Linked DNA regions of Homo sapiens. The protein of the gene in region 2 interacts with the protein of the main gene of each other region in a biochemical or structural test. Each region holds a gene or a part of one and is shown on either strand. Other genes may lie near its edges.

Region 1 (7,029 bases), on a different chromosome or scaffold from region 2:
GGGGAACAAAAAAGATGGGCTCAAGTTGCTGGAGGCACTACCTCATGAATAGGCTGCAGAACTAAGGGGTTGACCAGGGGGATTCATGCAGATTCCCAGGGCAGTTTTTTTTTTTTTTTAAGACAGAGTTTCGCTCTTGTTGCCCAGGCTGGAGTGCAAGCATGATCTTGGTTCACTGCAACCTCCGCCTCTCAGGTTCAAGTGATTCTCCTGCCTCAGCCTCCTGAGTAGCTAGGATTACAGGCACCTGCCACCATGCTTGGCTAATTTTTTTTTTATTTTTAGCAGAGATGGGGTTTCACCGTGTTGGTCAAGCTGGTCTTGAACTCCTGATCTCAGGTGATCCATCTGCCTTGACCTCCCAAAGTGCTGGGATAATAGGCATGAGCCACCGCACCCGGCCCCCAGGGCACTTTTTGAAGGCACAGGTGTACAGGTCCTCAGATTTTGGACAGGTTCCAATTTGAATAATTATATTCTCTCTCCCTTAGTACCCCCTGCTGTTTCTGGTGGATACAGAATTCTTATTCACTCCCTGCACTAAACTGTTGTGTAGAGTTGCTGTGCAGCTGTTAAACAGCTGCCACATTTCTCTCCATATATAGTCTCTAAAGCATTTTTGGATGAAAGGAATTATATAAACATATTTTATTGTCATGTACTGGTTGCCTTACCACTTAGTTGTAGGTTTTGTGAGGTTGTAACTATTAAATTCAAATCCATATTCCACAGCACATCAACGTTTAATTTCTTCCCCCACCTGCTCTCCAATGCTCTCTAAACAGCAAGGCTCTTACCACAAGGGTCCGTAGACAGAGTGTCCCTGCAGGAGCACGGGGGTCCAAAGCAGCCACAAGATCCCACACTTTAATTTTTCTAAAGATCAAAAAGGGGACAAAAATGTTAGTTAAAAGCAAATGTAAGAGAAGGCAGGGAAGAATAGCAGAAATTCATGGCAATAAATATGGATGGTGAGTATAGTTCAAATGTACGTGATTAACCTACAAATGAGAAACAGGCTAGCTTTAACCAAACTGAAGACAGTTAACAGTAAAGTTATACCATACTTTGGGATCAAGAGGAGATCTTGTACATTAGACCTTTTAATGATATTACACAGACCTAGAAATCTACAACTGTGAAGCATCCTCTTCCTGGGCACTTCTAAGAGTGGCCCAGGTCACATGTACTGAGGGACTGGGGTCCATGTAAGAGCAATGGAGTTTATATAAGCAAGCCCTCATCTTTTGATTTAAATAAGATAAGTGTAGCTCTTCCAAAAATCTTTTAATAGGCCATGTTTCCTCAAGGTACATAGCAGACAAATTCCAAGACAGGTGGGTACAGATCAAAGCCAGGACAATAAGAAAATATTGTCTTGACCAAGCTGGAACATGTCACCACACTCTGAACAATTTCCCAAGGTTGTAACAGTGATGGCTGTCCCAAAGCAGAAGAAGTGAGCAGTCTACACTTCCTGCTGCTTGCATTGGCTAATGAATGTATCAGTGTAGTTAACTCATGAACTAAAATAATGTTGTTAGTTTCTGATATTTAAAAAGCTGCCAAAATCAGGCAGATTGACAAAAAGAAATGATAAGAGTTCTTCCTAAGTGAATAACTATTTTTTTTTCTTTTTTTGAGACGGAGTCTCGCTCTGTTGCCCAGGCTGGAGTGTGGTGGCGCAATCTTGGCTCACTGCAACCTCTGCCTCCCTGGTTCAAGCAATTCTCCTGCCTCAGCCTCCTAAGTAGCTGGGATTACAGGCGCCCGCAACCACACCTGGCTAATTTTTGTACTTTTAGTAGAGACTGGGTTTTGCCATGTTGGCCAGGCTGGTCTCGAACTACTGACCTCAAATGATCCACCTGTCTCGGTCTCCCAAAGTGCTGGGATTAAATGCATGAGCCATTGTGCCCAGACTACTTTTGTTTGAATTTACTCTGTGTTTAGGATTGGTGGACATGGGGTCCATTCACAAAATTAATGGATTCCATAACCACTAGAAATTAGAAGAAAATAAAGATGACTAAACTCATAAATGAAATGCTAGGATGACAAGTGATGACAAGAGAACTGTACTCTTAAAAATTACTCAAAGAGATAAAAAACCCAAGAAATCAAAATTCAAGATCTTACCACACTAAGTCCCCAAATACTGCCCTCTAGTGTTTCTGTTTTGTTAACAGGTTACCCTTTTACATGGGTAGCCTGTTAACACTGGGTTTTTCTTGTTCTTTGCTTTACAGGGCAAAACAGTCAAATACATAACCAAATAACCAAAATATGAATGACAACCATGTGCAAACAAGTATAATAAAATGAATGGGAAGAATATTTCAGGACACTAAACCAAGGAGAGGTAAATACACGGATTAAAGAAATATGGTATCAGATATTTTGTGTAAAATCTATAAGCTTTTAGAAACAAGGAATGGTTATGTTTAACACCATAAACATAAGGAAGGATTAAGACGTAGATTTTCTCTTTTTTACACTCTGTTAGCACACTCACCCATCATAGGCCCCACTGACTATCCTCTTGTTATCAAATCGAATACAACGCACCAATTCCTCATGGCCTTCTAACACTCGTAAACATGCACCACATTCTATGTCCCATAATCTGGAAGAGAAAATTAAGTCAGGTGAATTTTCACGTATTCTTTTCTAAGCCTGGAATGTTATAACAATACACCTCATATGCCTTCTAAAAATTCATAAAATAAAATCAATCACCACCCACACAGATATGTACTGCTTTCAATGTAATTTATTTCCTTTCTGCTATATAACTCACACAGAAATATGTAGGTTTAAGTTCAAATGTAAAATGTATTTTCAAAGCACAGGGCTTTACATAATTCTGTAAACAGGTTCTTCCAGGCATAAAAACGAATTCAATGCACGCAGTTGCCTGAGAAGGAAATGACCAAGCTAAGAAAGCAGTTTCCTGAAGTCACCAAACTGAAAGAGATACAGATTATCAGTGATGTCCTGTTCTCACAAAGCACCTCCCCCTCTGCCACGGCAGACACTTCTTTCACCACTGTCCAGGACAGCTCTTCTCAGAGAATAGAAATGCAAAGTCAGTTCTCAAGAACTTTTGTGTACTAATTATAAAAACTGTACGTTTTCAGAGCAATTCAAGTGATTTCTAGGAATAATTTCCTTAGATATAACAAACAGTAGCTCTTTTTTAATGGCCTTTTCATCCTTTTAATACTTCACTGAAGGGAGAGGATGGATAAATCTTCCAAATTATAATCATATCTATGTCATTCATCTTTGTGAAGGGAAAACCCCAAAAAGGACTTCCAACTGTGAAATCTTCATAATTTCAAAGACAGGTAACTCTCTGGCCAATTATGTAATGCTAAGACAAAAATTACATAATTTCTAGTAAGGAAACAAATCTTTCTTTTCATTTCTTAAAAACAATGGCAAAGAAAAGGCTGTTAGCTGTTTATTAGCACTTTTCAACGGTAGACAGGAGAAATTTAAAAAGAAGGGCAACAAAAGGCTTTGCTGTGCTGCTTCTCTGCCTGGGGCAAACTTCTGACCTGTAAGAAGCTACAGAAAGGAAAAACAGTTGATTATAAACATAACAAAATTGAAGACTTGTATGATCTGTGCATTAATAATGAATGGGAGCATAATATTGATCCCTTATGATACAAGGCACTTGCTGCTCACCTGATAGTGTTGTCAGATGAGCCACTCACTACCAGCCTGTCCCTGTACTGCAAACAGGCAATGCCTCGTTTGTGTCCATTTAAGGTCCTTACAAATTCACAAGTACTTGTGTTCCATACCTGAAAAAGAAAATGGCATTGAGCAGTTGATTTGGTGCTTTTATTGGTAAAATCTATGGCAAATGGAGTCTTAGAGAAGCAGAAAACAGGACTGAACCATTAGAGGGAAGTCTTCTCAAACAAATAAAACAAAGGACAATTTAAATTCATGGTAACAGAGGCTAATTTGCAGTTGGCTGTTACCACATGAGAATTCCTCAGATTGATTTACTCTTCTAGGGTTAGTCTCTTCTCACACTCACCACTATTTATAGGAATAAAATATCTAGGATAAATTGTCACACAACGTCTCACTTATTACACCTTTTCACTTGTAGACTAGTCTCTGAATTAAATATTACATTTTTCTGTAGCAACGTTTAAATATGAAATTGCCCTTGATCAAATTTTCATATGAATTCCCCCATTCTAAGTTGGAAACTTACTGAAAAATGCCTTATTACCTTTATAGTTCTATCCCCAGATGCAGAAACAATGTACTTGTCATCAAAGTCTACAACATTGACAGCAGCTCGGTGTCCGACCAGCACCCTCCGGAGGGTAATGTCAGTTGGGGAGGCCATATCCCATACAGCAATGGAACGATCTTTGGAGCAGGTCACCATCATGCCATTATTGAAACGCAAGTGCAGAACTGCTTCACAATGGTGAATCAACGTGTTTAGCATTTCACCTGTATTTACATCCCACACTCTGGAAGTGATAGATGAGATTTAGATGGTACTCAAGCTACAATCTGTTACCTATATTTGACCATCATGCGCCCTTCCACCCCTTATATTTAGAGAGAGGGCCAGACTGGGAGAGTGGGAGAAGGAAGGGGATGGGATGCTGCCAGTGTGTCCTTAAGACATACTGCTTGAAATATGGGCAAGTTGTGGAGGGCAAGGATGAAGTGGCAGCCACTGTCACCTAATAATTTGGCCCAGACTTGAAGACTGTAAAACTTCTCACATTCAATTTGATACCATTAGTAAGATACATTTTAAATGAGGAATCTGATTAATAACAATAGCATTAGTGCCCATTCCAATGATAGCCCTCAGGAGCCAGAAATGAAATAGGCCAAGATGCTTCTGTCACATACTTAGTAATGTGAATTTGAGTTTGATTACCCTGGATCTCAGGTTTTATCATAAAGGTCAAAGGCCAAGATAACCATGACTCTAATTCTAAGCCCCCATTTCTGTGTTCTGAAGTGGGTAGGGGTTTAAAATAGACCCCCCATTGTAAATATGGGCTTCACAGCAGAGTGTGGGGCCCTTGGATAGCTTGAGAATTTTGTGTGATTATATATTTTGATTATTCTATTTTTGTGTATTTACTTAAGGTTTTATAACATGTTATTTCCTTTTTTCCAGTTTAGCCCCCTTTTATAGAATATCATTTTTTCTTTATCTTATAAATGATGTTAGCACCTGCAGTGTTTTAGATTCTGTGGGGCACTCACTCCACAAGCACCAATAAATGTTAAATGTCAGTAACTACAAGGGCCAAGTTTGCTATGCCTTGCTATGCCTTTAAGTCAAAAGACAAAAAACAGGAACCGTCTTTTCTATTCACAGAGGATAACTTGGAATGGTAAACATTTAACTTCAGAGTATCTAACAATGCACTTAACCGCTTTTTTCCTAGGTCTATTTTTTTTTTAAAGTTACTTTTGATGCATTATGTTTGCTAAATCCTTTAGCTTACGGCAAAATTCCTAACAGAGGTTCCCAGCAGTGCTGCTGGTACCCAGAACTCAAGCTATCCTGGACTCCAGCAGTATAATGGCTGTGTCATCAAATCACTAATGCCTCTGGAAATTGAGGGCCCCTACCTGAGTGAAGCTTGCAATTAAAAACTGCAGGGATGGCAGGGGAGGGGCTGGCAAAGAGAGCACAGCTCACCTGTACATGTTTCAAAGGAGATAATACAGACCTGCACTACAGTTACCACTACCTGAAAGGAAGGCTTCATTGCATTCATATCATTCCCCCGTGAGGTGGTTTTTGTAAGGAATGCAAAGTTTACCATAAGGATAAGAAAAGTTTCTGTAATAGATGATCCTCCAAATTAAAATAGAATGTGTAGTTTCTTCAATGTGCGAAAATGTAAACTTACCTCAAGCATTTCTAAATCAAGTTTTCTAGTTCTAGACTGACAGAAATGATGGGGACCTGGTGGTTTATTCTTCTTTAGTTTCAGAACTGTGCCGATATATACAAAATTACTATCTATGACAAAGAACAGAGCAGAGCTGATATTTCAGAGTTCAAAAAAGCATTTGAAATTTTCTACCTGACCGTGGAATCCGATGATCCTGTTATGATCACTCTCTCATCATACTGGAGACAGAGGACTGAACCTGTATGGCCTGTGAGAATTCGCTTGCATTCCAATGTGTTTTTATCCCAGATCTAGGATGGCAAATAAGATCCTTTTGATCAATGTGATGATGGGGTGCTGTGGAGACTTGTTGGTCCTATTACGTGTCTGATCCCCCAAAATAATCAAAGCCCAGAGTAGTGTGGAATGCATTTTCTATAGGTATAGCTAAGCGCGCGCGCGCGCACACGCGCACACACACACACACACACACACACACACACACACACACATATAGCTTCAGTACTAATGCAAACTTTTATCCTTTTCATTAAGGAACAGGGTAGTCTATAATTATGTGATGGCCAAAAGAGTAACAGCCCATTCAGTGCATTTCAAGAAGAGAATTTAACCCTAGGACTACCCGTTTGTATAGTGGGGAAGCTGATGTCTGTCCTTTAAGGAAATGATTTTGGCTTTGGGACTGGAAACAATCTAAAATCTTCACTTACTTTCTAGAAATAATGCTTAGAGTTTATGCTTTAGACTGCGCTATGAATGTGGTCACTCTTGCTCCCTCTGCTACCTTTCTACAACTGAATAGACCTCACCTTGATTGTGTTGTCTCGAAGGCCGCTTACTATTTTCTGATCATCATACTGTAAACAGTAAACTCCTTTGCTTGTTTCACTTCGGCAGTGAATTCTCTGTAAACTATGTCTTCCACATCTCCAATTAGATTCTATTGTCTGAGAAGAAGGAATGGGAAAGAGGCAGTGTTAGGAAACACCTAGAATCAAACTCTTTTTAGGCTTTAATGACAATCAATGGCTCAATGCTTTACTCTATGGGATATACACAACTTAGGGAAAACTAAAAAATGTCTTTAAAAGGCTACTATCTA
Region 2 (7,029 bases):
CTTCTGGTCCACAGATTGATCAGAAATCACATTAACAGGAATGGATGTCTATGCAAAATTTCTCATTAATTTTCTTACTTTTAGTAGGAAGTTTGTTTTATTCGGTTGGTCTGTTGGTTTTCTGTTTACAAGGTGAATTGTCTACAGTAGTGGGATTGTTATATTAGAAGAGAAGGAGAAGGAAAAATAGAAGTTAGTGCTAGAGGATATGTTAAGATGTTCTGCTCCTACATCTACATTTGTGTCTAATCAGCATTAATTGATGACTACGTCTTGGTAAACAGTAGACCATACTGGAGCAATTTACTCTGCTTTTTGGGAATTAGTTCTCATTTGCACTCTTGCACCTCCCATAAATACTGAACTCACTTGTAGTGTTCTTAGAGGTCAGCAATAAACCATCAAGAGCATATGATCTCTCTTTGAATTTTGTCACTACTTTGGAGACAGACAGTTTGGAAGAACTGAAGGTACTCAGCCTCAGGGAGAAAGGTTTGAACGTTTTGGCATAGTCCTGCAAGTCAGTTTGGCTCCTTGACTGTGAATTTTTTTAATCAAAAAAGATTAATATTTGAAACCACATAATTTGGACAGTTAATAGTTCTGGTAACATAACCAAGCCTTTTATCTTTGTAGTATTTCATTAATTAGTATCCAGTGCCTCACTTTTAGAAGAAAAAAAGAGAAAAAAGTAGTAACATTCTTTTAATGATGATGAAATTGCTTCATACCTTTGGTCTCTGCTGTATTAGGGGTTGTTCCTGGGTGCAAATTAATATACTGTCTTTTACATTTCCGGAGGTTGTTGACCTGGCCTTGAAGATCAGCCAACAGTTTAGAAAATAAGTTGTGCAAATTGCATTGCTACACCTCAAATAATTTAAAGCCTGACAGTTCTGTACAGAATAAGAGTCACATAAGATGTGATTTGTTAAAGATTATAGAAATCTCAGAAGATAGATTATGGATGAAAATATTTGTTTAATTTAGAGTACTAATAATAAAAATAGTGCATTTTACATTTTAAAAAGAAAACAATTTTTATTGTGTCATATTTTCTGTAGTAACAAACAGAATTAATTATCAGTAATACAAATTTCATCTGCTTTAATTTATTGCCTGTTTTTGAAATTAGAATAATGATATATTTGGTTTAATTATCCATTACAAATTGCCTTATTATTTTTCATTCATCTTTCACCATTAATCCAGAAACCTTAAAATAGCTTTTATTTTGACCCATGCCTTCAGTAGATATCAACAGACTTGAGTTCATCTATGGATCCTATTAGTTTAAACTGTGACAAATTTTGACTGCTTAAGCTTTAGAAAAGAATTTATTCTTTAAAATAGCCAAAATTATAAAAAATGAAATAAAGAAAAAGCTGTTTGAGAGAATCAAATACTCTAGTTTAACTAAAAATAAATAATATCTAATCAATACTGACGAAAGAAATATCTGATGCTTAGCATTGTACTTGTTGGTACATAGTAAGCAATCATTAACTGTTAAATGAATGAATGATATGAAGTTGTTGCAAAATTTTTTTTTAAATGGACAGCCATCTTCTATAAGGAACAAAAATTACATTATTTTGCTTTGCCTTCTGGAAAGAAAGGAGCACAAAATAGTCCTTGTGTCTTAGATATTATGGAAATCTTATCTAAAGACCACTTGAAGTTTACTAGAACAAATAATTTATTAAAAAGTATCTGGCGCCTTCCAAAAGGGGAACATTTCATTCTGAAAGAGGCATTTATGAACTAGAAAAAAAATGCCTTTTAGTTTCAAAGTTTTAGAGGCACCAGAGCAAGATTATAAAGTAATTGGAATGATAAAAGGTGCTTGTAAAATTGAAAAATGTAATTTTTTGGTGAAGTTAGAATTTCTGTACACTCCATTGAAACTGTAATATCAAATACTAATACCTCCAAAAAAGAAACAATGCTACAAGCACTGCTTGGTAATCTAAGAATTGTTAACACTTATCTAAATTAATCAACCAAAAAGTTAAAACAAAATATGTTATTTTGTTATGTTACCTCTAGAATTAAACACCTATCACCCATAAATCTGTGACTGTTAAAAGTTACTAGATGGCAAACCTCAGGAACAAGCAGGCAGTTAGCAGGGTTTACTGTACTTTCCACTTTCATACTTTAATGATTTTTCCAACACTATAGAAGCTGGGGCCTCATCCTAGCACAGTTTGTTCATTATTTTTCAGTTGTAGCATTTTTTAAAAGTTGGCCTTGAATTTCTGAATTGAACCATTTATTTTTTTGTGGACACAGTTTTTTAAATGAAATATACCATTTAGACTAGAAAAGAGCAAAATGCCAATACTCCCTGTCCTAGTGTCATTGTGCCCCCTGGGAACCCTAATGCAGTCCTGTGGGAAAACAACCATTTTATTGAGCGCTGCTCACTTCAGTTCATTCTGCTTTGCTGCCACTTAGTTCTGGTTCTGACCCTGATCTCCCCTCACATCACTCACAACAAACATTCAAGTTTAAAAATTAAGTTAAAAGTTAGTTACATATATATGTAACTAATGTGTATATTAAATATACTGATATATATTAGTTACATATACAGATATGGCAACAACAAAAAAGGTTATATATATACATATTTGTAACTAATATGTATATTAAATATAATGATATATGTATAAATACATATTTGTAACTAATATAATTATATTTAATATATATTAGTTACAAATATGTATATATAATATTTTTTGTTGTTGCCAGCAAAATGAGAAAGAAATTAAATGTTAACATCTATAACAATTGCACTGTAAAGCCGTCATTGTTGAAAAGTACTCCGAAGATTAATAGCGGCAGTGTTTGTTAAAATAATAAAATAATCCAGGCACTCTGCCTGTGACTTCCCCATGAGATGGCTTCCAGAAAAAGATAAATTTTTGTGTGTTCCCTTACGAGTTCAGTCTGCAGCTTCTGGGCATGAAGAGAAGCATAAACAAAACAAACAAGGCTCTAACTTTGTTATAATCCTTACGCTACTAGTAGAAATGTATGGACAATTCATGCATTTCATATTGGAAAATAAAGCTATTAGATTTTTCTTTGAGATGAACCTTTTTTTTGTAATTTATTTTTTATTTTTTATTTTTTTTCAGTAGAGATGGGATTTTGCTCTGTTGGCCAGGCTGGTCTCAAACTCCTGACCTCAAGTGATCCACCCGCCTCAGCCTCCCAAAGTGCCGGGATTACAGGCGTGAGCCACCTAGCTTGGCCAAGGTGAACCTTTTTGATAAATGAGGCTCACTAATATTTCTAGGATTTACTTTTCACTAACTTGAACTAAAGAAAGTATAAGACCTGCATAAAGTTGAGCATACCTCTATAATGTCCCATTTTAAAAAGCAATTTGTTTTTAATGACTTTTATTTGTTAAAAGCAGTTATTTCAAAAAATTATTTTTATTATTTATCATGTCATTTGGACTGAAAATACTATACCATATTTCAGTGTTAGGGCACACCTATCCCTCTTTATCCCAGACGTCAATTCTACCATATAACAAGTATGTAAAAAAGAAAACATAAAAGTGATGACAGACTCCCTAATCAACCTATTTATTGGTTCTAAGCCCAAGCCTGCAGTTCATTTAAATAGTGAAAATAGATTACTTAATTGTCTTAGAAAATATGTCTTCCATGACAAGAATTTTAGGAATGAGAAAATAACTATTTTTGGATGTTTTAACACAAATTCCCAAATCATGTTTTATTGATATTTGAAGAACCTCTTTGTCTACCAGTTCTTAAGTATAGGCTTATTTTGTAAGGCTTAAACATGTATTGGTGTTTGACTGTTAAGACTTGATCTATAACCTTCAGTGTCTTTTTCTTTTAAATGGGGTATGGACTTGGTAATGAGGCCAGAGGAGAATACCTTACAATTTATAGCATCTGCATATAATACAAGAACCTTCATGATTTATAAAATTAAAATGATGATGATGTGGAATGATGGAAGAAGCATGTGTGGGTGGCTATTTATGTAGAGGAAATTAGAAGTTGAAAGCAATGTTAAGAATTAAAATTAAATTACACTTAATTTTTTGCTCAGTTGGATAGTCAGGAAAGTACTTAAATCAGCAATTGATTTACGTAAAATCAAAACTGAAAACTGAATATACAATCTAGGAAATAGGAAAAAAATTTTTAGTGTGTTCATACTGCTAATTTCAAACCAAGCAAAAAACCTGGGGAACTACTTTTCAGAGGAGATGGCTTAAAATGAACCAAAAATATAGCCATTTCTCTACCCTATTCATTTAATGCATTCATTTATTATACTGCTAATACATGATAAGGTGAATAGGTTAAGCATCGTTTGTATATGTGTATGTGATTTTAAACCTGAGTCTTTTGAAAGATTGGTCAAAGCAAAGGATAATGAAAGCATAAAGATTTAGGGGGAAGAGTCCTCTATAAAACTAAGACTTAAACTTTGTTATCAACTTGAATGTGAAGATAGAATAATCTAGAAAGTGAATGAGAATTATAAATAAAAGGACAAATCATATATCTCATGGTTGAGAAATACAATGAGATAAATTGTATATCTCATCTCATGGAGGGTCATAATGAAAGAAGTAAGAGAGATTGCCCTTGGATAGAACCTTTCGGCAGACATTTCATAATGGATTATCATATTTTTGCTAAACTGGTAAGAATGGACTTTTCACCACATTATGAAAAAACACTTTAGAAGTCAGTTGCGATCAAGCAAATATAAGTACCTGGGAAATTAAAATCAAAAGCACAGCAGTCCAACAATAGTCAAATGCATTTACTCACTCTCATACCATATCATAGCGTTAATTTGAGATAATGTCTTTATGGTGTCTCTTTATATATTTACTCGATTTCCCATTTAAGACATTTAACCAAATTTAAAAAGCAATCCTTAGAAACTTTAAAAATATTTCCTATTTTAAACCATTACATAATCATTTACCCTGCAGTTACAATTCTTTTTTTGTGATGGGTGGGGAAGTATCCCATTTCTCTTAGAAAGTCTTCTGTAATAGCCAAATAGGAGTCAATCCAAGTTGCTTAGAGAGGTAGTTCAATCCTGTGTTGAAATAGATGACTTTTGGAGTAATTGTGCTATATTTACTGAGTATCTGTTGAACTGTAGGAGTCCAGTCATTCAAGGCAAGCTACAGAAATGATTTTATTGCTGAGGCACTTAAGTATCTTCACATCTATATGCCAATATTAAATTTCTCATCATCCTTGATCCCCACCCCTTTGCACAGATTGGTATCCCCAGCACATTAGGGAATGCGGTTGTTAGCCTGTTAGGGTCCATTCAGTAGATTTCTCATGCCAGAAATCTAGAAGCCCTTCTTATACATTCAGCTTTCTTCTTCAGTCAGTCACCAAGTTCTATCAAGGCAGCCTCCTCATCTCCAGAATCCATCCCTTCCTCGTTGAATTTCTAGATTTTATTTTTGCATTGTCTCCTGCTTCTAACCCATCGTTCATTTCGCATAATGGTCAGCTTTCTAAAGTGTAAATCGGATCATGTCTCTGCAGTGAATCCCAGTTGTCTTCACAAGCTGATTCTCGCACACCTCACCCCCTTACTCCCTCCGGTGTTCCCCAACCATCCCCTAATCTCAAATCCTCCACACCGACTTTCAGTTTCCTATCCACAGTTTCTGACTTTGAATGCCTTTGCTTATGCCCTCCCTGTATGAGAAGTGCCTTTTCTTTCCTAGCCATCCTGCTAACTTCTAAACCCTTAGGCCTGGTTTGAGCATCACCATTTCTCTCACTTGCCTTTCTGTTTTCTCCCTCCCCTTTCCATAAAGAGTTATGTGCCCCCATTCTGTGTTCTCCTGAATTCCTGTGGGTCCTAGAAAAGAAACATCTTGAGGGCAAGGAGTTCATCTTATTTACTTTTTATTTGCACAGCACCTGGTGTGTTTGCTGAATAAGTAAATACCGAACAAGATATCAAGAGACAGTGCTGCCAATTAACTGTGTGGCTCTGAGCAAGTTAATTAACTTCTCTGAGTCTTATTTTTGTTCTGTAAAAAAAATGAGGTTTGACAAAATGAGCATCTCTCTCTAAAATTATGTGTTTCTTTGATGTAATTGTATTAATTGGAAGACTTCAGATTTTCTTGCCATATCAAGATAGGTCAACTTAAGAAAAATGCATGTGAGTAAGTACCAAGCCAATTCTTGATTATCAGTATGATAATATGAGGAACTGCCCATTTTGTCGATAATAAGTTATAATTTTTGGTCTCAGTGTAGGTTCTTTCTCAAATCCAGATGTTTCTGGTGTTGCATTTTTTCATTATTATTCAGTCTCTCGCATTCATATTTCTCCAAAGAAATTTATGGAAAACTTGAGACAAAAATTGAATGTAAAGTTTAATATTTAAATGCTAGATTGATTCAAGGTCTCACTAATTATAACTATATTTGGAGGGAGAAGAAGGGGAGGTGGTGGTAGTATGAGCTGAATCCTCCTCTGTTCCTTCCTAGAAGGAACACAACGTCCTACATCAAGAAAAAAGACAGAAGCATATCTTGGAGATATGAAAAGAACCACCAGGTAAACTAAAAAGAAAAAGAGTGTTAAAAAGTCAGCCTTTAAAAAGCAGGATTGGAGATGAGGAGGGGTGGAGTAGGGGAAGCATTGCTTGTTTATAGAAGCTCTTCCATCTTCGTATAGTGTGATTTTTATTTTTTTATTATTTTTTCCTTCCTTTTTTTTGACCTCCAGCTTTAGTATAGTACAGTTGACAGAAATTATATATGTTTATGGTACACAAGATGATGTTTTGATATACATATGCATTGTGAAATGATTAAATCAAGCTGATTAACATAAGTAGGGTTTTATTTCTTTAACAGTGATTTATTTGAATATATGTTGAGTCCTTTCTATGTGCCAGACACAGTTCTAAGGACAAGGCACACAGTGCCAAACAAGACAGAAATCCAGAAATTCATGGAGCTTAAATCA
Region 3 (6,900 bases), on a different chromosome or scaffold from region 2:
TTATGCATAAACCATTAAAAATCTGAATTTCAGACCTAGAGAATTTCCAACCACCCCAATAAAACACACCAAAAAGTTAACAGACAAAAGATTTTGTATATACCAAACAATTCTCTTATTTCAAAGGAGGAGGAGAAGATGTGACAAAGATAAATAAAATGAGATTACTATCTTATAATAAGGTCAAATTTAAGATAAGTGTAATGTTAAAGCTTAGACACCTCTGGATTTTGTAAAGTCACATGCAAAGTTTTACACATACACATATTTTAGTATAACAAGGTATCACATTAAACAATATTTGCCCTCCTAAAAGAATATGAGGCAAGGATGGGCACGGTGGCTTGTGCCTGTAATCACAGGACTTTGGGAGGCCGAGGTGAGCGGATCACCCAAGGTCGGGAGTTCAGGACCAGCCTAACCAACATGGAGAAACCCTGTCTCTACTAAAAATACAAAATTAGCTGGGCGTGGTGGCGCATGCCTGTAATCCCAGCTACTTGGGAGGCTGAGGCAGGAGAATTGCTTGAACCCGGGAGACGGAAGTTGCAGTGAGCCGAGATTGCACCATTGCACTCCAGCATGGGCAACAAGAGTGAAACTCCGTCTCAAAAAAAAAAAAAAAAAAAAAAAAAAAAAAAAAATATATATATATATATATATATATATATATATATGAGCTAAAACTAAAGCAGAAATAAAACTGTCTTTGTATCTAGAAGCTCAAATTTAATTCCCACCTCTTCATATTTCCATCTAAAGCCATCTTAAAATAAGCAGTCATGAACAAAAAAATTCTAACAGTGAAAAACAAAAAGTTGTTGTAGAAATAAAATGAATGCATCATCTTTCTGATGAAAAAGAAAACTACATTTTCAAAATCATTGGTTGATCCATTTGGTTGCAACTTATCACCAAGATTATCACCAAACATCTTAATTAAGGTTTTATTTACTCTTAAGGAAATATAGAGCATTTCAAACAAAGCATCACTTGTGACTGGCACAAGCAGTTCCAGACTGCGAAGCCCTGCCATTAGGTACTGCATGACCTCAAGCAAATCACAGGACCTCTGTGGGCCACTGTTTCTTCATCTATAAAAGTGAGGCAGTTGGACAATCTTCAGTCACTTTCAGCACTAAAGTTCTATAAATCACTAATTCTAAATTTAATTCTGATGGGTCAGTTCAAACTTACATTCAATCTTATGGAAGGAAAAACGTGGAGAGGGAAATACTTAATAAATTGTTCTGGTCTTTTCTTGGTTCTCTTCTTTTTACCCCCCCTTCTCCCTTCTCCTTGAAACTCCACTTCAGTCTCTATCACGTAAGAAAATACATAAACAATATCTATACTACTTTAACTGTACCAGCTTCTTAAATTTAAGAAACCAAATTCCTCTACTTCTCTTTAATAAATAAGATCTTAATTATGCCGCTTATTTGTGTGCCTCTTGATTTTTCTCTTATGGATCACCACCTTAAAAAAGTTAAAAAAAAAAATAGAAAAGTCTTCATTAGATTTTTCACACAGACCAGACTAGAAGTAAATACAGCTTTTGCTTACTCAAAGGCTGACTAAACCAGCAATATGCAAACAAAGATGATAGCAAATGGCTCAGCTGAATTGGTAAAATGTCCGCTGTGTCTTTCTTGTAAGACCGCAAAATTGAGATCTGTTAATATCAACAATCCTTACAAAAGAGTAAGAAATAATAACTGATTGCCTTTGTCTCTTCCCTTTAATCTGACAGGCCTTCAAGCACTTAGTAAGTGCATAGCAAATTCTCAAAGAACTAGCTAAATATCATTTTGGTCAACAAGAAATGATTTGGCAAGTTTTATATCCAAAAACTTTATTTTTTGGAATCACTGCATATTCCAATTTTATCTTCATAAATATGTTTCAGAAATAAAATACTACTGCACTCATCTTTACAGAGCACCTAGAACTTTAAGGCACAGTAGGATGTATACTTGCCAGCCAAAATCTCATAACTACAATGACAAGTACTTCAGGAAAAGACTGAGCAATCTTTTCATTTACAGAAGGTTTTTAATTCAAGGCAGGCAAATTTTAAGAACAGTAATACAAAAGGAAGGCCAATACTCATCACTTTTTCTTTTTACACAAAATTGAAATAACTACGTTTCCTTAGAAGACAGCTTTACTTCTAAGGTTGTTACTCAGAACAAGTTTTCAGTGTGAATTATAAAACTTCATTTTTTTCTAATAGTAAATGAATCATTCTAGTCTTTCTTCCTCTATTTAATATTCACTTTTACTTGTTATCTAAATAATCTAATATTCATTTTTACTTATTATCTAAATAACAATTCATTTAAATTTCCATTGGGTTTCCAAAATGAAACATTTAATATAATTTCATTAACTTTAAAAAACAGAGAGGGAGAAAAAAATAAATAAATAACAGTCAATGAGCAACACCTATGGCTGAGTTGTCCCAAAACTTCACCCTTAGCTAAAATGCCAAAACAAAGCCACTGCCCCTGGATATTTAACATCTATATCACACAGGAATAATACGGTTTACTTAACTGTAACTTCAACTACCCCAAAAAATACAATTAGGTTTTTTAAATTAAAATTTGACCTTAGTTTGCTTTGTGGTACTTAAAAACAAATAAACAAACAAAAAACCTCTTTTATTCTTAAATTACATAGAAAAAAAATCACAAAGACATACAAAATGCTTTAGCAAGAAGATCTAAAACTTTCCAGAATTTCAGTGCTTTGTTTCCCCCTAGCAATTAAGTTCAATCAGGCATGTGACTGACCACACACATTTTATCAGAGGGTTAAAGAACACATTCAGCCATGTTCTTCAACAGGTAAGAACCACCCTCTGTTTATCAGCTCAAGAAAAAGCCAGAAGCAAACATACAAAATTGTAACAAGTTACCTTCAAGTATTCTTTCTCTATCGTCTTTTGAGCTTGAAAATAAAAAGCAATCCGACAAGTTTTAGCTGTTAAAATGGCTCCTGTAGATTGGGGAAGTGGTGTCTGTGCTTCAGCTTATGAGTCATACATGAAACCAAGTGTTTCTAAGGGAGGCACGCCCATGTTGCTGTGGACCCAATTATTCTGCTAGGTCAAACATGCAAATCTGCAGGTAAAAACGGTATAGGAAAGTGGGGATGAAGAGGCAAGGAGCAAGATCTACCTTGATTAGACCATTACTAAGCTCATATTAATTGCCATAATTTAAAACTAACAATAAAATAGAGTAAGAACCTACAAGGGAGCAAAATTAAAAACTATATATTGTTTTAAAATATAAAAATCTCAATTTTTAAAAGTTGCTTTACTATATCAAATAAAACTGTGAAAGGAAAAAAGTATGAAAGGGGATGGAAGGGAGATAGCAAACTCTGTGGCTCTTAATGTAACAATGGACTGGTGAGTGTAATCTGGCTACTCATTAACCCTCATATGAAAGAGATATATTGCTATGTAGTCTGGAAAGGCTAGCAAACTACAAAGCCAGATGCAGATCTGTAAGTTCACTAAACAGATAAAATCCACTAGAAAATTCAAAGTTCAGTGGAAAAATAAGTGTGAATTAAACTGGTTTACAGAATTTTTAAAAACCCACACTCCAATGTTAGGAATTTAAAGTCCAACAAAGCAAAATGATTTTAAATAAACTGCAAGCTTGATAAAACCCTTTTAAAAAAGTATTGGTACGATCATAGTTCATAACTCTACTACTTCCAAATGATAGCTACAGTTTGACTTACCTTTCAAGCAAAATTTTCTACATGTATTTCAAGCCTCTTGTGCCAGGCACCCTGCTACAGCTCCACTGCAATTGTGGCAAGGCCAACCTAAGGGGACAACTGTGGCCAGTGAAGCTCTGCCTTCCAAGTCAGAATACATCTGACAAAGTGCCCAAGCCACTGAAATATTACTACACCTACTTATTCTGGCCTCTGGGTGAATACTTATTAATTTATTCTAAGAGCTTAAATTAATCAAAATGGCTTGAAAGCACTAAGTACTTCCAAAGCGCTTGAAATGATAAATGCAACTCAATAGATAGCCTTCGTCCTGGTATCTTACAAAAAGTAAATAGGATTTAGCAAGGTTTTCTCCCTTTAGTTAATTAGTTGGGAGTTTATTCTGGCTTACCAGAGGCATAGTTGAGAGCACAAGCTGTCACTGACTTAGGAACTTTACAAAATGCTGCAAAACAGCAATGATTGTGAACCAACTTTCTGCCTGCTGTCTATTTATTCCTTACACTGAAGATTGCTTGGTTTATCCTTTTACTGAAAAATAATCTCCATGGTTTTACAAACTGTTAATTAAAAATTTATTAAAAAGAAATATAGACCATGTTTTCTCCTGTCAAATGTCATATTTAGCTTACTTTAGTTCACTTACACAAAATGACTATTCAGAGCCCATGCACCAAGAAACAAGGTCCGCTGAGCAGTCACGGGAGATTCACTTGTTCCCTGGAAAGTTCCCCCCAGGTAATTTTCCATATCTGAAATTTATTTTAGATAACATGAATGTAAACCTAACAATTTGATTATCTTCTTTTGGCTAATTAGAAATAAAAACTGTAACAGGTAAAAGAGGGCAACAGTATTATAAAAGGATGTCAGAAAAAGTGAAATAGCTGATAATGACATTAAAAAAACCCACCTTACAAAACTAAAAATAAACATAACTTTAAAAGTATTCAGATATGAAGCCATTATATAAGGTCAGTAAGTTGTAATATTCCCTAAGTATATTACCATACACTAAGTGTCTCCAAGTCAGCATTAGTTTAAGACAGGCCTTCGAAAGCCAAAGTGTGTAACATCAAGTGTGTGAGATGTTTTATGTAGAACAGGTATCTAAAAGGATAAGCTTCTGCTATTGAGAAAATCCATTTATATAATGCACCTCATTACTTAATAATGGCAAATATTCCAAACATAATTTAAAGGAAGTACTCTGGCCACCAGTAATGTGAAGAGAATTAAAGGGAAAATAATTACACCTCTTCAACAGAAACAAATATCTTAGCTGTTCCTAAGGAGATGACTCCAGAGCTGCCATTACAATATATTATCCCTCTGCCCAGGGGTATCCCTATTAGCATTATTCTATCACCTACAGGAACTGGATCCTTGTTCTATTTACAGCCCCAATAAGTCAATCTCTGCATATGAGAGGATCAAAGAGAAAAAAAAAGGCAAACAGTTTGACACAGGTTCTAGTCAATCTACTTGGGTTTCAATCCCAGCTCTGCTACCTATTAGCTATGTAATCTTGGGCAATTACTTAACAATCCTGCATCATAACTTATTTATCTATCATTTAGCCTAATAGTATCTACCACACAGATTATGAGGATTAAAATAAGTCCACACACTGCTATCCAGACTACATAAAGCACTTTCACAACTCAAAAATAGGAAAACAATCCAGTTTTTTAAATGGTCAAATCTGAATAGACACTTCACTAAAGAAGTCATACAGATGGCAAAAAAAGTACATGAAAATATCTCAACATCAATACTCAATAGGGAAATGCAAATTAATGTGACACCACCACAACAAAACAAAACAAAAACCACCAATAATACCAAGTGTTGATGAGAACATGGAGCGACTACAACTCTCATATATTGCTGGTGGGAATGCAAAAGTTTAGCCACTTCGGAAGATAGTTTAGCAGTTTCTATAAACATACACTTATCACATGATCCAGTAATCCCATTCCTAGGCATTTACCCAAGAGAAATGAAGATATGTGTCTATTTTAAAACTTCTATGCAAATATATATAGCAGTTTTATCATTCACCAAATATTGAAAACCCAAATAATGTCCATCAATGTGTGAATGGATAAATCCATGTAATGGAATGGTATAGTATATCCATATAATGGAATGCTACTCAGCAACAAAAAAGGTCTGAATTTCTGATATATGTGACAACATGGATGAACCTAAAAGCATTAGGCTGAACAAAATAAGACTGACTCCATGACTCTGTATGATTCCATTTATATGTGACATAATGGAAAAGGCAAAACAGAAGGCACAGAAATCCTATCAGTTCTAGGGGCTGGAAATGAGGGGAGGGGGTTGACTACAAAGGAAGACAAGGAACTGTTGAGGGTGACAGAAATATTCTGTATCTTGACTGTGGTACCGGTATATGACTTATGTACATTGTCAAAATTCATAGAGCTATAAAACTAAATAGGGCAAATTGTACTGCATATAAACCATACCTCAATAAAACTGATTTTAACAAAAAGAAATCTAGGCCAGGCACGTTGGCTCACGCTTGTAATCCCAGCACTTTGGGAGGCCAAGGCAGGTGGATCACTGAAGTTCAGGAGTTCGAGACCAGGCTGGCCAACATGGTGAAACCGTCTCTACTAAAAATACGGATATTAGCCAGGTGTGGTGGCAGACACCTGTAATCTCAGCTACTCAGGAGGCTGAGGCAGGAGAATCGCTTGAACCTGGGAGGTGGAGGTTGCAGTGAGCCGAGGTTGCACCACTGCACTCCAGCCTGGGTGACCAAGCAAGACTCTGTGTCAGACCTCCACATTTTGTAACAAATATCCAAGTTCTGCACATGTACCCCAGAACAGAAAGAAAGAAAGGAAGGGAGGAAGGGAGGAAGGAAGAAATAAATCTAGTTTAGGTATATGAAATGTACATACTGTGGGTATGTTTATTTATAAAATTAGATATGGATCAAGTCAGTATATACCTTATATAAAGCTTTCATGGCTGCTCATGGAATTGTCAACATGTATATTTGAACTATTAGCTGAGAGAGATTGAGTCAACTGAATGAATTTAAATGCCAACTAAATTTCAGATACTATTTATTTCCTCCACCAAAACAGAATTTATAAA
Region 4 (7,029 bases), on a different chromosome or scaffold from region 2:
GAATAAACGACCGCAGCCTCACTTCCTTTTCTGGCCCTGTGGAGATGCTGCTCTGCCCACCTGAGTCGGCTTCTGTCTTCTTGCCAGGCCCTCGAAAGTGTACCTCCTTTCCAGATCCTGCTAAAGCTCCATTCACCCCAAGAAGCCTCCCTTCCCCAGCGTTCGGGAGAGATCATGCGGACAGGGAACCCAGCTCAGATGCCACATGATGCCCTGGAAAAATGGCAGCCACTGTTATCCATGCAGTTCGGTGCTTGGATTTAGACTCACTTAATGCATTTCTGAATGCTCCCTGGATCACTGTGATCAGAGAGTAAGCACACGAAGGGCAGGGACCCTTTTTTCCTGGTATCCCTGACAGAGCTCGGGCCCAGGCTCTATAAATCCCTAGAGAAGTGACTGAACGGAGCAGAGGCTTTAAGGCTTCCAAGCACACAGATAAGCTGTGGAAAGCTTTGCCTTGTCCCATAAAGGGACAAGTACAGGTCCGTGCTGCTTCATAGAAGGGATCGTTAATACTCTGCCTTCTAACAGCCAGTACACACACTGCCTCCTCCACCCCAACGAGCATCCCGCAGGGCCCCAGGCAGCGCTTCCTGGCCCTCCTCACAGCCAAGTGTACACAGAACATGATGATATCACAAGGTACCCTGGGTGGCTTCCAGAAGGTAGCTGACCCACATCCTGCCCAGCCATGTTGGGGACCCAGCACTGAGGAGATCAGTATTGGAGAATCCCCATAATCCATGCAAAAAGTGGGGACCCACAGCCAAGACGCTGACAGAGCCAGGATCTGAACCCAGGTCTGTGTGACTGAGTATCGTGTTTCCCGCCCCCACTCCCAAAACATGCTGCCAGGTGGGAGCACTCGGTTATCTCCTCCTCCTCTTCCTTTGTATTTAACAAAGGTCTCATTGAAAATATCAGCCTATCTAAACGGTACTGGGAAGTGGTTTGTGCTGACCCCTGGGCTGGAGGTCTTAGGGAGTCCCGACACAATGTGGAATGGTGAGGCCCGCGTGGCAGGAGAACCACAAGAACAGGGGAAGCAGGTTGTGGTGGGGCTCGCTTGTTCACTGCCCTCCCTCCCTGGGAAACACTCAATGTGGGGTTCTCTGTCTAACAAGGAAGACTTATAAGTGTTTTGTCCTCCAAAGAAGTGTTTTTCAACCAAGCACAGTGGCTCATGCCTGAAATCCCAGCACTTTGGGAGGCCAAGGCAGGAGGACTGCTTGAGCCCAGGAGTTCCAGACCAGCCTGGGCAACATAGAAAGACCTCATCTCTACAAAAATAAAAAAATTAGCCAGGCGTGGTGTCTCACGCCTGTAGTCCCAGCTACTCAGGAGGCTGAAGTGGGAGGACTCCTTGAGCCTGGGAGTTCAAGGCTACAGTGAGCCCTGATCGAGCCACTGCACTCCAGTCTGGGTGACAGAGGGAGACCCTGTCTCAAAAAACAAACAACAAAAAATCAATAAAGAAGTGTTTTCCCCTTCCTGCTTCAAAAAGGTTTAGACTGTGGTGAACAATGAGAGCCTAAGGAACACCAAGGCCTCCCCCTGAGTCCTCACCACAGAGAAGCCACAGGCACAATGGAAAAAGCATGAGGTTGGGTTCCGAACAGACGCAGGTTCCAATCCTAGCCTCTTTGCTTGCGAGCTCAGGTCTGTGGGTGAGTCACAGAGACTGTGCTTCAGTCTCCTCAACTATAAAATGGGAACAAAGACAACAGTACTTCCTTTCAGAGTTGTGAGGGCTGGAGAGAAAGCACGTAAATACCTAGTTTGATGCTGGCGCATAGCAGGTTCTCAGTAAATGATGCCTCTGATTATCAGGCCACTTCTCTGACTGAGGATACCCATGCTTAGGGGCTTTTTCATGTAACTTCTATTGTGATAACTACAACATTCCTTCTTCTGCAGACAAGATGCAGTGCATGGAGTGTCAGGAAAGTGCACACTGTTGTTACGTGGAGTAAAACCATCAGAGTCAAGGAACCAACACCACCATAGCCCAGCTGCTTCTTTTAAGAGGCTGTGAACAGAGGGGTTCCCAACAGAGAACATACACGCTCATCTTCTGAACTTGGACAATGATCAAAGACTTCTCCTCAGCACCCAAAGCAGCCCTAGAGATTTCCCAAACTTGGGGAGAACCCACGGGGAAGGAAGGTAGAGAGCTTCCTGGCCTGGGCCGGGCTCACGGGTAGGCATCATTGAGGACCTGCAGGCACTCCACTCCTCCTGCTCCCCTCCACCTCTACTCCACCACTAAGCGCTGTTAATTCCACCCCTTAAATCTCTCTCTCTCTTTTTTTTTTTCTCAGACAGAGTTTCGCTCTTGTTGCCCAGGCTGGAGTGCAGTAGCACGATCTCGACTCACTGCAACCTCCACCTCCTGGGTTCAAGTAATTCTCCTGCCTCAGCCTCCTGAGTAGTTGGTATTACAGGCATGCGCCACCATGCCTGGCTAATTTTGTATTTTTAGTAGAGACGGGGTTTCTCCACGTTGGTCAGGCTGGTCTCGAACTCCCAACCTCAGGTGATCCACCTGCCTCTGCTCCCAAAGTGCTGGGATTACAGGCATGAGCCACTGCACCAGGCTAAATATCTCTTAAGTCTGCCCACCTCTCCCCATCTCTCACCTAGACGACTCCAAAACATTCAGACCTGGTCTGCCTGCATCACTGGGACGGAGCCAGTGACACTGTAGTAGCAGTCACTGAGAGCTGGTTGTTAACTACTCAGGAATCAGGCCGGAGCGGGCTATTAAACTACTGGTGGCTTGAAGTCAGCCCTGGTGGGAGTAGCTACTCCATGAGAACTGCTGCACACTATGGATCAAGGCATTTCTTCCGAGAGCTGATTTTTTCCCAGCACGCTGCCCACTGCTTGGGCCCTCCCAATCTGTCCCCATGGGCACAGCGCCTCCCTCTAACATCGTTCCACTGCTCCTCCATCAAAACAAAACCTCCTCGGCTGAAACTGCCCAAAAAACACCACAGGATCTGACTTGCACCGTCCACCCTCAGCCACCCAGGCACTTGTGCCCCATCCTCCCTTCCGGCCACGCTGGCCTTCAGTCTTGCCCACTTGCCACACCTGCCCTCCACAGAGGCCCCTCAGGAGCCTCTCCCTTGGCCTGGAACTCTCCTCCCACCTTCTCTGTCAAGCTGACTTCTACTAGGGCCTCAGTTCAAGTGTCACTTCCTTGGGGAACCTCCTCTGACACTGACTGATCCCACCCCAACGGAAGGTCTCAGTGCACTGGGTCCTTCTCCCAACTCACACTTTACCATACTTAGGAGCTTACATTTATAATTAGTTGACTAATGGCTCCTTCCCTTCTCCAAAGGTCTGCTTTAATTACCAATGTACACATAATAGACATTCGATAAATATTTGTGGACTGGCAGAGTGGATGATTTGGGGCACCTAGCACATATACAACGTCAGGCACTTGCTACAGGAGAACTGAAGGAACTCCAAAGGCCAGACCCAGCCCTGGCTGACCAGGAATGCAGGGTCCTGACAAGACTTACTCCACACGCAGACAGGAAGGGCGGCACAGGAACCAGCCCAGAGGAACTCACCGGGAGAACCAGTTGCCACAGAACAAAGCCATCCCAGACGCATATGAGGAGGAGATGGCCTAGAGTTGGTCCTGGAGGAATGTGGAGGAGGGGGAGGCCTGTCCGGCAAGAGGGCTCAGCGCTCAAAACAGAGGCAGCCAAGGGGAGGAATGATGGAGAGGCAGGTGCAGACAGACTGTGTGGGGTTCAGCCGGCAGGAGGAGGAAGCTGGCTTTTGGCTTTTTAAAAATAAATAACAGGCCAGGCGCCTGTTAGTGACTCATGCCTGTAATCCCAACACTTTGGGAGGCCAAGGTGGGCAGATCACTTGAGGTCAAGAGCTTGAGAACAGCCTGGCCAGCATGGTGAAACCCCGTGTCTACTAAAAATATAAAAACTAGCCAGGCATGGTGGCAGGTGCCTGTAATCCCAGCTACTTGGGAAGCTGAGACAGGAGAATCGCTTGAACACAGGAGGCAGAGGTTGCAGTGAGCCGAGATCAAGCCACTGCACTCCAGCCTGGGCAACAGAGCGTGACTCCGTTGCAAAAAAAAAAAAAAAAAAAATTAGCCACACGTGGCCGGGTGCGGTGGCTCACGCCTGTAATCCCAGCACTTTGGGAGGCCGAGCAGGCGGATCACAAGGTCAGGAGATTGAGACCGTCCTGGCTAACACAGTGAAACCCCATCTCTACTAAAAATACAAAAAAAAAATTAGTCGGGGGTGGTGGCAGGCGCCAGCAGTCCCAGCTACTTGGGAGGCTGAGGCAGGAGAATGGCATGAACCCGGGAGGCGGAGCTTGCAGTGACCCGAGATCACACCACTGCACTCCAGCTTGGGCGACAGAGCGAGACCCCGTCTCAAAAAAAAAAAAAAAAAAAAAAAATTAGCCGGGTGTGATGGCGCTGCCTGTAATCCCAGCTACTCAGGAGGCTGAGGCAGGAGAATCGCTTGAACCCAGGAGATAGAGGCTGCAGTGACCCGAGATCGCACCTGTCTCAGCTGAGAGTGAGACTGTCTCAAAAAAAAAAAAACAAGAAAACATACGGGAAGTGCTTCAGGGCATTGGTCTGGGAAAAGATTTTATGGATAAGACCTCAAAAGTACAGTTAACAGAGGCAAAAGTAGACAAATGAGATTACATCAAACTAAAAAGCTTCTGCACAGCAAAAGAAAAAACAGAATAAACCTATGGAACCTATGGAGACAACTTATGGAATGGGAGAAATTATTTGCAAACTATCCATCCAACAAGGGATTAATATCAAGAATATGCAAGGAACTCAAACAATTCAACAGCAAAAAAATAAATAATCCAATTTTTCAAATGGGCAAATGATTTGAACAGGAATTTCTCAGACATACAGATGGCCAACAAGTATATGATAAAATGTTCAATATCACTAATCATCAGACAAATGCAAATCAAAACCACAATGAGATATCATCTCACCACAGTTAAAATGGCTATTATCAGAAAGACAAAAAGTAACAAATGAAGGCAAGGATGTGGAGAAAGCGGAACTCTATACACTATTGGTGGGAATGTAAATTAGCACAGCCATTATGGAAAATAGTATGGAGGTTCCTTGAGAAACTACAAACAAGGCTAGCGCAGTGGCTCACACCTGTAATTTCAGCAGGTTGGGAGGCTGAGGCAGGCGGATCACCTGAGGTCAGGAATTCGAGACCATCCTGACCAACATGGTAAAACCCCGTCTCTGCTGAAAACATAAAAATTAGCCGGGTATGGTGGCATGTACCTGTAATCCCAGCTACTTGGAGGCTGAAGCAGGAGAACTGCTTGATCCCGGGAGGCGGAGGTTGCAGTGAGCTGAGATCATGCCACTGCACTCCAGCCTGGTTGACAGAGCAAGACTCCGTCTCAAAAAAAAAAGAAAAACTATAAATAGAACTACCATATGATCCAGCAATCCCACTACTGGGTATCTATCCAAAGGAAAGGAAATCAGTTTATCAAAGAGATATGGGCACCCTCACGTTTACTGCAGCACTATTCACAATAGCCAAAATATGTAATCAACCTAAATGTCCATCAATGAACAAATGAACAAAGAAAATGTGGTACACAGACACAATGTACTCTTATTCAGCCATAAAAAAGAATGAAATCCTGCCATCTGTGGCAACATGGATGAGCTTGGAGGGCATTACATTAAGGGAATTAAGCCAGGCCCAGGGAGATAAATACCACATGTTCTCACTCATCCGTGGGAGCTAATAAAAAACTGATCTCAGTTGGGTAAAGTCTGTTGGCTGACACCTGTAATCCCAGCACTTTGAGAGGCTGAGGTGGGAGGATCACTTGTGTCCAGGAATTCGAGACCAGCCTGGGCAACAGACAGACCTCCTATCTACAAAAAATCAAAAATTAGCCGGGCATGGCAACGCACACCTGTAGTCCCAGCTACTCAGGAGGCCGAGGCAGAAGGATCATTTGAGCCCAGGAGGTCAAGGCTACAGTGAGCCATGATGGCACCACTGCACTCAGCCTGGATGACAGATTGAGACCCTATCTCCAAAGAAATTAAAAATTAAAAAAAAAAAAATGCCAGGCACAGTGGCTCATGCCTGTAATCCCAGTACTTTGGGAGGCCGAGGCAGGCAGATCGCCTGAAGTCAGGAGTTTGAGACCAGACTGGCCAACATGGTAAAACCCTGTCTCTACTAAAAATACAAAAATTAGCCAGGCGTGGTGGTGCACGGCTATAATCCCAGCTACTTGGGAGGCTGAGGCTGGAGAATCGCTTGAACCTGGGAGACACCAGTTGCAGCGAGCCAAGATTGTGCCACTGCACTCCAGCTTGGGCAACAGAGCAAGAATCCATCTCAAAAAACAAAACAAACAAACAAAAAAAAACTGATCTCGTCCAGGCTCGGTAGTTCCCACCTGTAATCCCAGCACTTTGGGAGGCTGGGATGGCGGGGGGGGGGGGGGGCGCGCCGGCGGGGATCACCTAAGTTCAGGAGTTCGAGACCAGCCTGGCCAACATGGTGAAACCCCGTCTCTATTAAAAATACAAAAATTAGCCAGGTGTGGTGGCAGGCACCTGTAATCTCAGCAACTCGGGAGGCTGGGGCAGGAGAATCACTTGAACCTGGGAGGCAGAGGTTGCAGTGAGCCAAGATCGCGCCACTGCACTCCAGCCTGGGCGACAAGAGCAAAACTCCGTCTCAAAACAACAACAACAACAACAACAAACTAATCTCGCAGAAGTAGAAAGTAGAATAGTGGTCACCAGAGGCAGGAAAGGGTGGTGGGGGTGGGGGGAGTTGTGGAGGGAAATAGGGAGAGACTGGTTAATGGGTACAAAATTACGGTTAGGTGGAATAAGTTACAGTATTCTAAAGAACAACAGGGTGACTACAGTGAATAAAACTTTATTGTATATTTCAGGCCGGACGTAGTGGCTCACGCTTGTAATCCAAGCACTTTGGG

The links.
Region 1: the proteins of NFKB1 (region 2) and BTRC form a complex in vitro, tested with the Homo sapiens proteins (3 studies listed by BioGRID, with this or other methods).
Region 3: the proteins of NFKB1 (region 2) and ELF1 form a complex in vitro, tested with the Homo sapiens proteins (2 studies listed by BioGRID).
Region 4: of the proteins of NFKB1 (region 2) and IKBKB, one has a biochemical effect on the other in vitro, tested with the Homo sapiens proteins (4 studies listed by BioGRID and IntAct).

The regions. Positions count from the first base shown.
Region 1 is NC_000010.11:101,532,140-101,539,168, reverse strand, and holds part of BTRC (F-box/WD repeat-containing protein 1A), read right to left. Parts: intron 6,875-7,029; coding exon 6,737-6,874; intron 6,218-6,736; coding exon 6,099-6,217; intron 4,509-6,098; coding exon 4,259-4,508; intron 3,816-4,258; coding exon 3,697-3,815; intron 2,627-3,696; coding exon 2,516-2,626; intron 877-2,515; coding exon 798-876; intron 1-797. UniProt on the Homo sapiens protein: Substrate recognition component of a SCF (SKP1-CUL1-F-box protein) E3 ubiquitin-protein ligase complex which mediates the ubiquitination and subsequent proteasomal degradation of target proteins. Recognizes and binds to phosphorylated target proteins.
Region 2 is NC_000004.12:102,504,335-102,511,363, forward strand, and holds part of NFKB1 (nuclear factor NF-kappa-B p105 subunit), read left to right. Parts: intron 1-6,545; exon of another isoform or gene 6,546-6,598; coding exon of another isoform or gene 6,599-6,615; intron 6,616-7,029.
Region 3 is NC_000013.11:41,016,305-41,023,204, forward strand, and holds the start of ELF1 (ETS-related transcription factor Elf-1), read right to left. Parts: upstream 3,013-6,900; 5' UTR 2,924-3,012; intron 1-2,923.
Region 4 is NC_000008.11:42,274,287-42,281,315, reverse strand, and holds part of IKBKB (inhibitor of nuclear factor kappa-B kinase subunit beta), read right to left. Parts: intron 1-7,029.